2 linked regions of the Homo sapiens genome follow. The protein of the gene in region 2 binds, or shares a complex with, the protein of the main gene of each other region. Links are inferred from orthologs where the notes say so. Each region holds a gene or a part of one and is shown on either strand. Other genes may lie near its edges.

Evidence for each region.
Region 1: the proteins of STAT2 (region 2) and IRF9 are in contact, whole or in part, in a crystal structure (PDB 5OEN), measured with the Mus musculus proteins. The link is inferred for Homo sapiens from one-to-one orthologs. Residues at the interface, in NP_064347.1 of Mus musculus: Arg163, Gln164, Lys166, Asp167, Glu168, Asp170, Val171, Phe174, Arg175, Thr177, Val178, Phe179, Leu181, Lys182, Asp188, His190, Gln191, Gln193, Gln194, Leu197, Thr201, Lys204, Met208; in NP_032420.1 of Mus musculus: Leu206, Leu208, Tyr212, Leu233, Asp234, Arg236, Ser244, Glu245, Ser246, Ser247, Met248, Asp270, Arg271, Leu274, Val275, Ala276, Asn278, Ser279, Arg280, Phe283, Val284, Gln285, Leu287, Cys313, Glu315.

The regions. Positions count from the first base shown.
Region 1 is NC_000014.9:24,164,050-24,167,147, reverse strand, and holds the end of IRF9 (interferon regulatory factor 9), read right to left. Parts: intron 3,086-3,098; coding exon 3,014-3,085; intron 2,562-3,013; coding exon of another isoform or gene 2,535-2,561; coding exon 2,193-2,534; intron 2,092-2,192; coding exon of another isoform or gene 1,965-2,091; intron 1,302-1,964; coding exon 1,186-1,301; intron 1,027-1,185; coding exon 952-1,026; coding exon of another isoform or gene 893-951; 3' UTR 583-892; downstream 1-582.
Region 2 is NC_000012.12:56,349,990-56,357,286, forward strand, and holds part of STAT2 (signal transducer and activator of transcription 2), read right to left. Parts: intron 6,590-7,297; 5' UTR 6,583-6,589; coding exon 6,452-6,582; intron 6,297-6,451; coding exon 6,143-6,296; intron 5,815-6,142; coding exon 5,719-5,814; intron 5,544-5,718; coding exon 5,454-5,543; intron 5,363-5,453; coding exon 5,287-5,362; intron 4,875-5,286; coding exon 4,789-4,874; intron 4,626-4,788; coding exon 4,477-4,625; intron 1,462-4,476; coding exon 1,303-1,461; intron 1,202-1,302; coding exon 1,109-1,201; intron 900-1,108; coding exon 840-899; intron 444-839; coding exon 423-443; intron 202-422; coding exon 108-201; intron 1-107. UniProt on the Homo sapiens protein: Signal transducer and activator of transcription that mediates signaling by type I interferons (IFN-alpha and IFN-beta).

The sequences.
Region 1 (3,098 bases), on a different chromosome or scaffold from region 2:
CTGGGATTATAGGTGTGAGCCACTGCGCCCAGCCGGCCAGAGTGTCTTTTATGGGGCTTAGATAGAGCAAGGAATCCAGTTTGGGAGTACCCTGCTGGGGTGACAGTGAAATTGTGCTGGAGGAAGAGGTGCCAGTAACAGCAGGTACAGTTTCAGCAACTCTTCTCTCTGACTCCTCTGTTCTCAGGTCCCAGGGCCTCTAGACCATAGTTTCAGGTCACCCTCAAGTGTCTCCTCTTCATTTAGACCTCCAATCTAACTAACCTCAGGCCCGATGTTGGGGCCTTCTAGCAAGAACTGTGGAGCCCAGACTTTACCATGTGAAGTTGGTGGCTATAGTGCCTGGCTGAAGGCTTGGTGCCCAACCCACACCCTAATCTTATCTGCCCAGAGGGTACCTCTGTAGAGTGCCAGGCCCAGGACCCACAGGGCCCAGGCAGCATCTTAGCCAGAACCTGTGGGCAGAGGAGAGGAAAGAGGCTGGAGATGTCAGCAGGAAGAGAACCCCAGTGCCCCACTCTTAAGTTTACATCTCTATCTGTGACCACTGCTACCTTCTTCTCCCAGAAAATCAGATACTGATTCCTCTTTCAATAAAATTTTATTTTAAGTCCTTAGTGAATATCTAAGAGGAAAATATAAAGTGCTTGGCTTTAGAGTTGGGAGGTCAGGGAAGAGGGAAAGGCCCCCTGGGTTCACACCATTTGGAATTTCCTAGTCCCTTACAGATGAAAGAGGGCGTATATCTCAAAATTAAAAAAAAAAAAGGATAAAAAATTAGCCTTGAGTTCTCCACCAGCCAGTGTGTGCGAGGATTTTCAGGACACGATTATCACGGACAACTACTGAGAATTATCACAAAGAGGACAGGTCAATCGTGTGAAGAATGAGTCTACTTCAAAGGAGACAGGAAGAACAAAGAGGTGAGGTGGAAGATGGGTCCCCCAGGCTCTACACCAGGGACAGAATGGCTGCCTGCTGCTCTGGAGTCTGCTCCAGCAAGTATCGGGCAAAGGCCTGCTCCATCTGTATTGGAAGAGATGGAGAAGAGCATCTCAGTGCGTGCATCAGGGACAGACACCACCCCCAGGAGCTCCTTCCCCACTGGGAGACCCCCTTTGCCTCCTGGAGCACCACTGTCTCTGCTCTCATTAGATGGGTACTCTACCCCTGCTCCGAGCTCACCTTCACTGTGATAAGATTCTGTGGAGTATGGCTGGAGCCATGGCTCTCTTCCCAGAAATTCAGTGTTACCTGGAACTTCGGTGGGGGGCCCAGGCCCTGAAAGTACCTGACCAAGTCTGAAAGAGAAAGGGTCAAGGGTTCGAAGAACAAAAAGAAGAGAGAGGGCCACAGGCAGGGAGGCAATAGTGAGGAACCCATGATGGAGAGAGGTAGGAGGGGGTCTTGCCAGAGCAGGAGCTGCAAGGTCAGAAGTACTTGGAACTAAGTGCTACTCACCCATGTGCAAATAGGAAAGGGTGCCCCTGCCTCATATAAGTGCTTAGAAGTAGCAGATCACAGCACAGCCCGACAAGCTCTCTGCTGGGAGAGTTTAGAGTCCTCCCAGGTAGCAGCCCTGGCTGCTAACTCAGATGTGCCCAGACCTTTGCTACTTGCTCACATCCTCCCAGTGCTAGGGCACCCATGGCCCTGGGAACACCCACACTCTGCACCCCCTGTACACCTGGTCCCACTCTTAAGGTCAGGTTTAGAATTGAGTAGGAGCTGGAATTGGATGGGAGAGAAGCGCAACCCTAAGGCATGCCTGGAGTGTGGTAAAGACGGTGCAGCCAGGGCCAGTGTGTGTGATGTGTGCCAGCTCTCCCAAATGTGTGTACGTAGGAGAAGGCCATGAGGCTCAAAATCTCTGTGCCAATTCTTCTGTGCACCTTCACATAGTGACTGCATGCTTCAGTGTGATGGTGTTCTCCAAGATATGACACTCTTGTGCTGGGCTCTACCTGAACCACCTCTTCCATTGTCTTGGCTGGAGGAGAGCTGCCAGGTAGCTGCCAGGCTGGGCATATGGCCACACAGGATATGCAACACACAAGCGCAGGAGTGCCATGCATAGGCTACATGGAGGATCTGCTGGCAGATAGGGAGGTAGCAGGACCCAACAAGTTGGGCCCAGGGGGTACTAAGAGGTAGGGGGTGGAAGCTCATGTGCCCAGAGAGAACAGCCTCACCTCTGCAGAAGTAGGCGGTTCTGAAGAGCTCCACGCACTCGTTGCTGGGCAGCAGATGCGGGCCTGGCCCAGGTGGAGCCTGGGGTGCATTCCAGGAGATGGGGATGGGGCAAAGGCGCTGCACGAAGAGGCCTCGGGGGTTGCTGGCCACTAGGATGCCCCTCTCAAGCTGGCTCAGCAGGCGCTGCGTGGGCTCCAGTGGGCCAGGCTTGGGGAACAGCACCTGCTCCATGCTGCTCTCAGAGCCTGAGGGCTCAGCCACAAGGCGGCAATCCAGGCTTTGCACCTGGGCCTCGCCCACCACGCGCCCGTTGTAGATGAAGGTGAGCAGCAGTGAGTAGTCTGGGGATAGAACAGCCCTACCTGGTGCTGGAGGAGCATGCAGGCTGGCAGCAGCCCCTCCCCAGGGGAACAACTCCACCTCCCCTCCCCACACCAGCCAGGGGGCTTCCTCTCAGGTTTTCCTATCACTGAGGCAAGTAGCTAGTATGTGATTCACCATGAGGCCTCAGGGCTCAATGCCCAGGGGCTTGTAGTTTACTAGAAGGTCCCTTGAGATTGGGCCTCTGTTTGGCCCAATGAAATCAATGTCTCAATGTAGATTTCCAGGAGAGTGTATAGGGTGGTATTTTTGGGAAGCAAGCTTTTTGGAGTCTGGCCAGGCATATGGAATTCTCGCCACCTAGAAACCACTGCCTAGGGCTATGGTAATGTGGGTACAGTTTGCTGTAAGCCCTGACTGACTAGATAATGCATGCATAGTCAAAGGTGGAAGACCTCAGGGGCACAGGGCACAGGAGAAAGTCAGAAATGCCACGTACCTGGCTCTGGAGGAAGCAGAAACTCCAGGGACCTCTGATCCCCTTGAAAGGGGGCCTCAGTTGTGTCTGTAACTGGAAGGGAAGC
Region 2 (7,297 bases):
TGTGAGCCAAGATGGCACCACTGCACTCCAGCCTGGGGGACAGAGTGAGACTCCGTCTCAAAAAAATAAAAATAGTAATAAAAGCATAGGTCACAAACTATTCTTACCAGGTAACCAAAGTCCCAAATCAAACCCTGACTCTGCCCCTTCTCGGGGGTCAAAGTTTTCTGGTTTGAAGTCAGAATGTTGAACTTCCGGAAGCTGTTCCAGGAGGAAGATACATGGAGACAAGGAATGGAATTATTCTAAAAACTCAGCAGAAAAAAAAAAACAGAAGTTCCACTTCATTTCAGATCTCGCCATCTCCCTTTGTCCATATCCCAAATCCCCCTCTTCCTTGTTTGTGCCACCAGGGCTGCCGAATGTGGTTCTGCAGGTCATACACTGTACAGATGTTTGCAGTGTCCTTGTCAAGCACCTACCCTTGTAATTGAGGAGGATTCCTGAAAAGAAATAAATTTAAAAAAATCATTGGGCAAAAGAGTATGGAAGTTAGGAGTTTCGTCTTTGGGATCAGACAGACCTCGGTTCAAACCCGACTTGAGCTCACTAGCTATGTGGCCTTGAGAAGAGATGTAATCAGTCTCTCTAAGCCTGTATCTTTGTTTGTACAGTGCACTGGTAATAGTTTATTCATGGGGTTGGTGTGACAATTAAATGAGTAGCTGACATGCTGCATGTCACAAAGTAAGTGTTCAACAAAAGAAATGAATTATAATTTCTGTGAGGTAGGATTGGAAGGAGGAAGGAGATAGCCCTAGGGCCCTGTTGTGAAGAGTGAGTATCTCCTCCACCCCAGCAGCCCGTGTCCTGGCCACCCTTCACCTGCTCCAATTTACCTGTCAATGGAGACTTCCACAGTCAGTGACTCATTGCCTTCCTGGAGTCTCACCAGCAGCCTGGGGGAAGGAAGGGGGATAGGGGAAAGTGGTCAACCTCAACCTTCCGGATAGACTAGATGTTTGAAAAAGAGAAGAGGGATTATAAGAGGTAGGGAGATTGCAGGGAAAGAGAAGAAAAAGCCAAGAGTGGGAAGAGCTGTAAAGCCAGAAAATACACAGTGGCAGGGTTGGAAAAAGGAAGTGGGAATGAGTTCTGGAATGCCAACCTTGTTCGGACGGTGAACTTGCTGCCAGTCTTGAGGATGAGGGGTCGATGGGGAGTTTGGGGCATGCAGGGCTGGGTTTCTACCACAAAGGCTCTGAGGAGAGAGAGGTGTGGAGAGAATATATAGCTCAGTATCTGTAAGAATGGCTTCCCTTGTTCCTTCTTTCCCCCAGGGTTCCTGCCTGGCCTCTAGACCTGTGGAGCAGACGCTGTAGCAACTCTGTGACCTGGGCGTTGCGTAGGTCCACCCCTTTGGTCAGAGGGTCATCCTGATAGCTAACCAGGCAACTCAGTCCCTTCAGCTCCTTCAGCAGCTGCCTCAGGTGAAACAACAGCTTTGCTCCAGCTGTGAACCTGGGTGATAAAATTCAGGAAGAAGGAATCCATGAGTTTCCTGGATTCCCCCATCCAGGTTCCAAGATCTCTCTGTAAATATGTGAAGAGTCAGAAACTGACTGGGGGGAAGAAAAAAAAAGAATCCAGGAAGCATATAAAGGATTATTCAACATGATTCATAATCCAAGAAATGAAAATCAAAGCTATTTTCACATATAAAACTGCTAATAGATTTAACATAACAGTTTTCATATGCTATGTACAACTTATATTAAGCCCTTTCCACATATTAATGCATTTAATCCTCAAAACAACCCTCTGAGGCAGGTACTATTATTTTCCCCACATTACAGATGATAAAACTGAGGCACAGAAAGGTTAAGTGACTTGCTTAAGGTCATACAACTAGTAAGGGATGAAGCTTGTATGTGATCCCAGGCAGTCTCATTGTACAACTCACACTTTGTTTTTTTTTTTTAGACAGTCTCACTCTCTTGTCATCCAGGCTGGAGTGCAATGGTGTGATCTTGGCTCACTGCAACCTCCACCTCCTGGATTCAAGAGATTCTCCTGCCTTGGCCTCCCGAGTAGCTGGGATTACAGGTATGTGCCACCACGCCCGGCTAACTTATATATATATATTTTTAGTAGAGACGGGGTTTTGCCATGTTGGCCAAGCTGGTCTTGAACTCCTGACCTCAGGTGATCCGCCCACCTTGGCCTCCCAAAGTGCTGGGATTACAGGTGTGAGCCACTGCACCCAGCCCCAACTCACATTTTTAACTACTGTACTTTACTGTCTCTATAATTAAAAATAATAATAATCAGCAATGTGGTGACAGGAAAACAACCATACACTACACATGAGAAAATAGATTCGATTGGGACAACTATTCTGGGAAACATTTGTAACTATCTTTTTTTTTTTTTTTTTTTTTTGGTGGGGGTGGGGGTGGGGGTGGTTTCTGGCAAAAACCTGAAAGCCTGCTAGACAAATCCTAAAAGAGCTGTAACACTTGGAACTATCTTTTAAAAAGCCTCGCCAGCTGACATGGTGGCTCACACCTGTAATCTCAGCACTTTGGGAAGCAAAGGTGGGCAGATCACTTAAGGCCAGGCACTCCAGCCTGGGAGACAGAGAGAGACCCTGTCTCAATCAATCAATCAATCAATCAATCAATGCATGCATGCATGCATGCTGGTCCTGTACCATAAGTACTATATGCCTGTTTTTCAATCTACCTGAGCAATTGTGGTATTTTTTTAATCTACTTTTTTTTTTTTTAAGAGGTGAGGGTCTTGCTATATTGCTCAGGCTGACATCAAACTCCTGGACTCAAGCACTCTTTCTGCCTCAGCCTCCTCAGTAGCTGGGTATTATGGTATGTGTACATATATACTTTTAGAGACAGGGTCTCGTTCTGTTGTCCAGGCTGGACTACAGTGGTATAATCATGGCTCACTGCAGCCTCCAACACCTGGGCTCAAGCAATCCTCCCACCTCAGCCTCCTGAGTAGCTAGGGACTACAGGCGTGTGCCACCATGCCTAATCTTTTTTTTTTTTTTTTGAGACGGAGTCTCGCTCTGTCACCCAGGCTGGAGTACAGTGGCATGATCACAGCTCACTGCAACCTCTGCCTCCCGAGTTCAAGTGATTTTCCTGCCTTAGCCTCCTGAGTAGCTGGGAATACAGGCATGCGCCACCACACCTGGCAAATTTTTGTATTTTTAGTAGAGATGGGGTTTCACCACATTGGCCAGGCTGGTCTTGAACTCCTGACCTCAAGTGATCCACCCACCTTGGCCTCCCACAGTGCTGGCCACATGTGTGAGCCACTGTGTCCGGACATGCCTAATTAAAAAACAAATTTTTTTTTTTTGTAGAGATGGGGTCTTGTTATGTTTCCCGGGCTGGTCTCAAACCCCAAGACTGAAGTGATCCTCCTGCCTCAGCCTTCCAAAGTACTAGGATAACAGGCATGAGACGCCATGCCTGGCCTGGTATATTTCTAAAAGACTAAATTATAATAAATTTTTAAATGAGAAAATATTGAAAACAGTAGGTATTTTTCAAGTATGTTGGAGGACACACTAGTGATTTTTCTACAACACAATATAATTACCATAAAATATAGCGTTTCCTGGAAAAAGGTAACAAGAAATTGAAAATAACCTAAATAGCTGAAAATAGGAGTTCATTAATTAAATTATGTTACCACCATATAGGGGACTGTTGTGTGGACATAAGAAATAACATGGATAAATATAATATACTGTTGGCCGGGCATGGTGGCTCACGCCTGTAATCCCAGCACTTTGGGAGCCCAAGTTGGGTGGATCACCTGAAGTCAGGAGTTTGAGACCAGCCTGGCCAACATGGAGAAACATCGTCTCTACTAAAAATACAAAAAAACTAGCCAGGCATGGTGGTGTGTGCCTGTAATCCCAGCAACTCGGGAGGCTGAGACAGGAGAATTGCTTGAACCTGGGAGTTGGAAGTTGCAGTGAGCTGAGATCGTGCCACTGCGCTCCAGCCTGGGCAACAGAGAGAGACTCCGTCTCAAAAAAAAAAAAAAAAAAAAAATATATATATATATATATATATATAAAAAATACTGTTAAGCTTAAAAAAAACCCCATGGATTTCAAAATAGTATGGACAATATGATTCCATTTTTGTTTAATAAGCTAGGTAATAGGTAATTTTCTCTTCCTCCTTCCTTCCTTCCTTTCTTGTCATTGTATTCGTTGCAGTAAAAAAAAAAATACATATATATATATTTCTGGGTGATTAAAAAAGAAGGAAAAACCAGATTGTGGGTTAATTCATTCCTTTCCCTGAAGGAGACTGGGCTCTGGGCTCCCTGCGTGGTGAGGATGAGGAGCAGAATAGAGCTGCAGTCAGCAGGGAGCAGGGCTCATTCTGGGGAGCAGAGACAAATAGAGAACAGTATCTCTTGCTATATGCAGGGCACTGCAACTTACAAATCACAGCGCATGGCGAGGACGAGGGTTGGGGTGGTACCTCTCACCATGTCTCCAGCTGTTCCAACCCGTGGTCAATGGGAGCTCTGATGCAGGCTTTTTGCTGCTGGGCCTTCCACTCCTCCAACTTTGGCAGCAGTAGCTCGATTAGGGTAGTTAATCGGCCTAGCAGTGCTTTGGAGGCATCCAGCACCTCCTGGGAAAGAGATAATGTGAGTGTTGAGCATCTCTCCCTTTCACCCTCCACCACCCAACTGGGGATGAAGAAACAAAGAAGCCAGCGCTAGAGGACCAGGGTCCCCACATCCCTCATTTTTCCAGGTCCTTGTTGCCCACATGTTCTGTCCTCTGTCTCCCACCTTTCTCCTTTTGTCCAGTTCATTGAGAGTTTCCTGCAGAATCTTCTGCTCTTTGGTCTGATGGGGGTCCAGAGAGGGTGTCTTCCCTGGATGGTGGGAACAGGAGTCAGTCCAGGGGTTCTTTCCTCTCCTTCCTGACTGGGGTCTCAGTCAGAGTCAGGAAGGAGGAATTTTGTGGAGGAAGAAAGGGAAACCAAGCAAAGCACAGGCACCTGTGGGACCCTCAGGCAAATTCTGAATGGTCATGCTTGGACCAGACACCCCCTCAAATAAAACACTGTTAGTTTTCCATGCATTTCCTCAACATTTACTGTCTCTCAGCTGCACCTCCAGCTCAGCCTCCACAAAGCACTTCCAGCTTTGCACGGCAGCAGGACTGTAGTCAGTGGGGTGTGTCTGACAGTGACTACTGCTCATCGGAGCTTTCTCCTGTTCACTTCCAGCTCCGGCTTCTCAGCAGGCACTTATCTTTCTCCAGCCCCTCAATGTGCTTCCTACCTTTGGCCTGGATCTTATATCGGAAGCAGAAGACATCCTGCTGGTCTTTCAGTTGGCTGATGGATTTTACCAGCTTCTGCAGAGGGGAGAGGACCCCGATGAGGCTGCTTCTCAGGGAGGTGTTAGGCTGAACGCTGTCAACCCTAACTCCTACCACATCTACTAACCTCCATCATAGCCCTTAAATCCAGGATCCGGGATTCAATCTCATGTTGCTGGCTCTCCACAGGTGTTTCGAGAACTGGCTCTCCTTGTTCCTGAAAAAAGAGGCTCTGAGCACGTTTTAACTCTGGCCTTTCATGCCTTAAGTTCAGGCCTGAAATTATACCACAGGATGTCGGGGGGATCCTGTTCTGAGACAACTCCCTGAGTCCTTTCCATGGTTCCTCTCTACTTCAGGAGTTTCCAACATTACCACTGAATTGTCCTCACCAATTGGGCCCTCTGAGCCTGGATCAAAATTCTTTTTTCTTCCAGAAGGAGGTTAAAGATCATCTCAGCCAACTGGGTAGGATCCTGGGAAAAGGGCTAGAATAGGTAAACAGAAAGGATTGATCCAATTCAACCACTCTCAATGACCTATTGCCCTAGACCCTCCCCACCAATGTCCACAGTATTTCCTCCTCCTTCGGGGTTCTTAGCCCTTTGTCTTTTCACCATAGCATCCTCCCAACAGTGTCACGTATATGCAACCCTTCTCTCTGCTAGTGATTCCCCAAGTCCAGACTCTGTCCTCCTTTCCCCACATTTGTTCCCGTCTCCCTTTCCACCTCCAGGTACTATTCTATTCTCCAAACCTTACTCCTCTATGCTCAGCTCCCAGTGCTACCCCATCACTCCCAACCGTTCCAAGTACCTGAATGTCCCGGCAGAATTTCCGCAAATTGTGCTGCAGCAACAAGGACTCTGGGTCCTGGCTGCAACGGCCACACTCATAGTTCAGCTGATCCAAGAAGTGGAAGAATAGCATGGTAGCCTTGGAATCATCACTCCCAAGTGCAGCTTCCTGCCTGGGCACCAGGAATAAGAAGTATTAGTGTCTCTGCAGTGTTACTGTAGTCCTGAGGCTTTCCAACCCCTTCCTGCCATTAATGATTCCAGGATCCCGGGGGCCCAGAAGTAAGGAACCACCTTTTTCATTCCCCCAACTTCCTGAAGGCCTCACCAGTTCTGGTCTTCAATCCAGACAGCCAAGTACTGTCGAATGTCCACAGGCAGGAGGCTGTGCGAGTAAAGCTGGTGCAGCTGATCCTGAAAGGGGCTGTCAAGATTCTGCAGCATTTCCCACTGCGCCATTTGGGCTCTGCGTCAGAAGGATGAGGGTTCCCAATTGGATATTTTGCTGGACTAAATCATCCATAGTTTCATGATTGTTCATTATTACTAATTTAAAATGTTTAAATTATACAAGTAATAAAAATACAGAAAACATTAAAATATATGTTGATCCTACTGCTAATCTTGGTTCTTTCCCCTCCTCTCCAGAAGTAACCACTGCTATCAGTTTGGTGCATATTCTTCCAGGGAGTGCTACCAGTTGAGTATCTGCTATTCCAAGCATTTTGGATTTCAGATTTGTCCAGATTTTGGAATATCTGCATTACTTACCAGTCGAGCATCCCTAATCCAAAACTCTGAAATCTGAAATGGTCCAAAATCTAACTTTTTGAGCACCCACATGACACTCAAAGGAAATGCTCACTGGAGCATTTTGGAGCCAAATTTTTCAGATTAGGAATGCCTAATCTGTATTTTTTTTTTTTTTTTTTTTTTTTTTTTAAGATGGACTCTCACTCTTTTGCCTGGGCCGGAGTGAAGTGGCATGATCTTGGCTCATTGCAACCACCATCCCCCTGGTTCAAGTGATTCTTCTGCCTCAGCCTCCTGAGTAGCTGGGATTACAGGCACCCACCACCACGCCCAGCTAATTTTTGTATATTTTTTAGTAGAGATGGGGTTTTGCCATGTTGGCCAGGCTGGTCTCAAACTCCTGACCTCAGGTGATCCACCT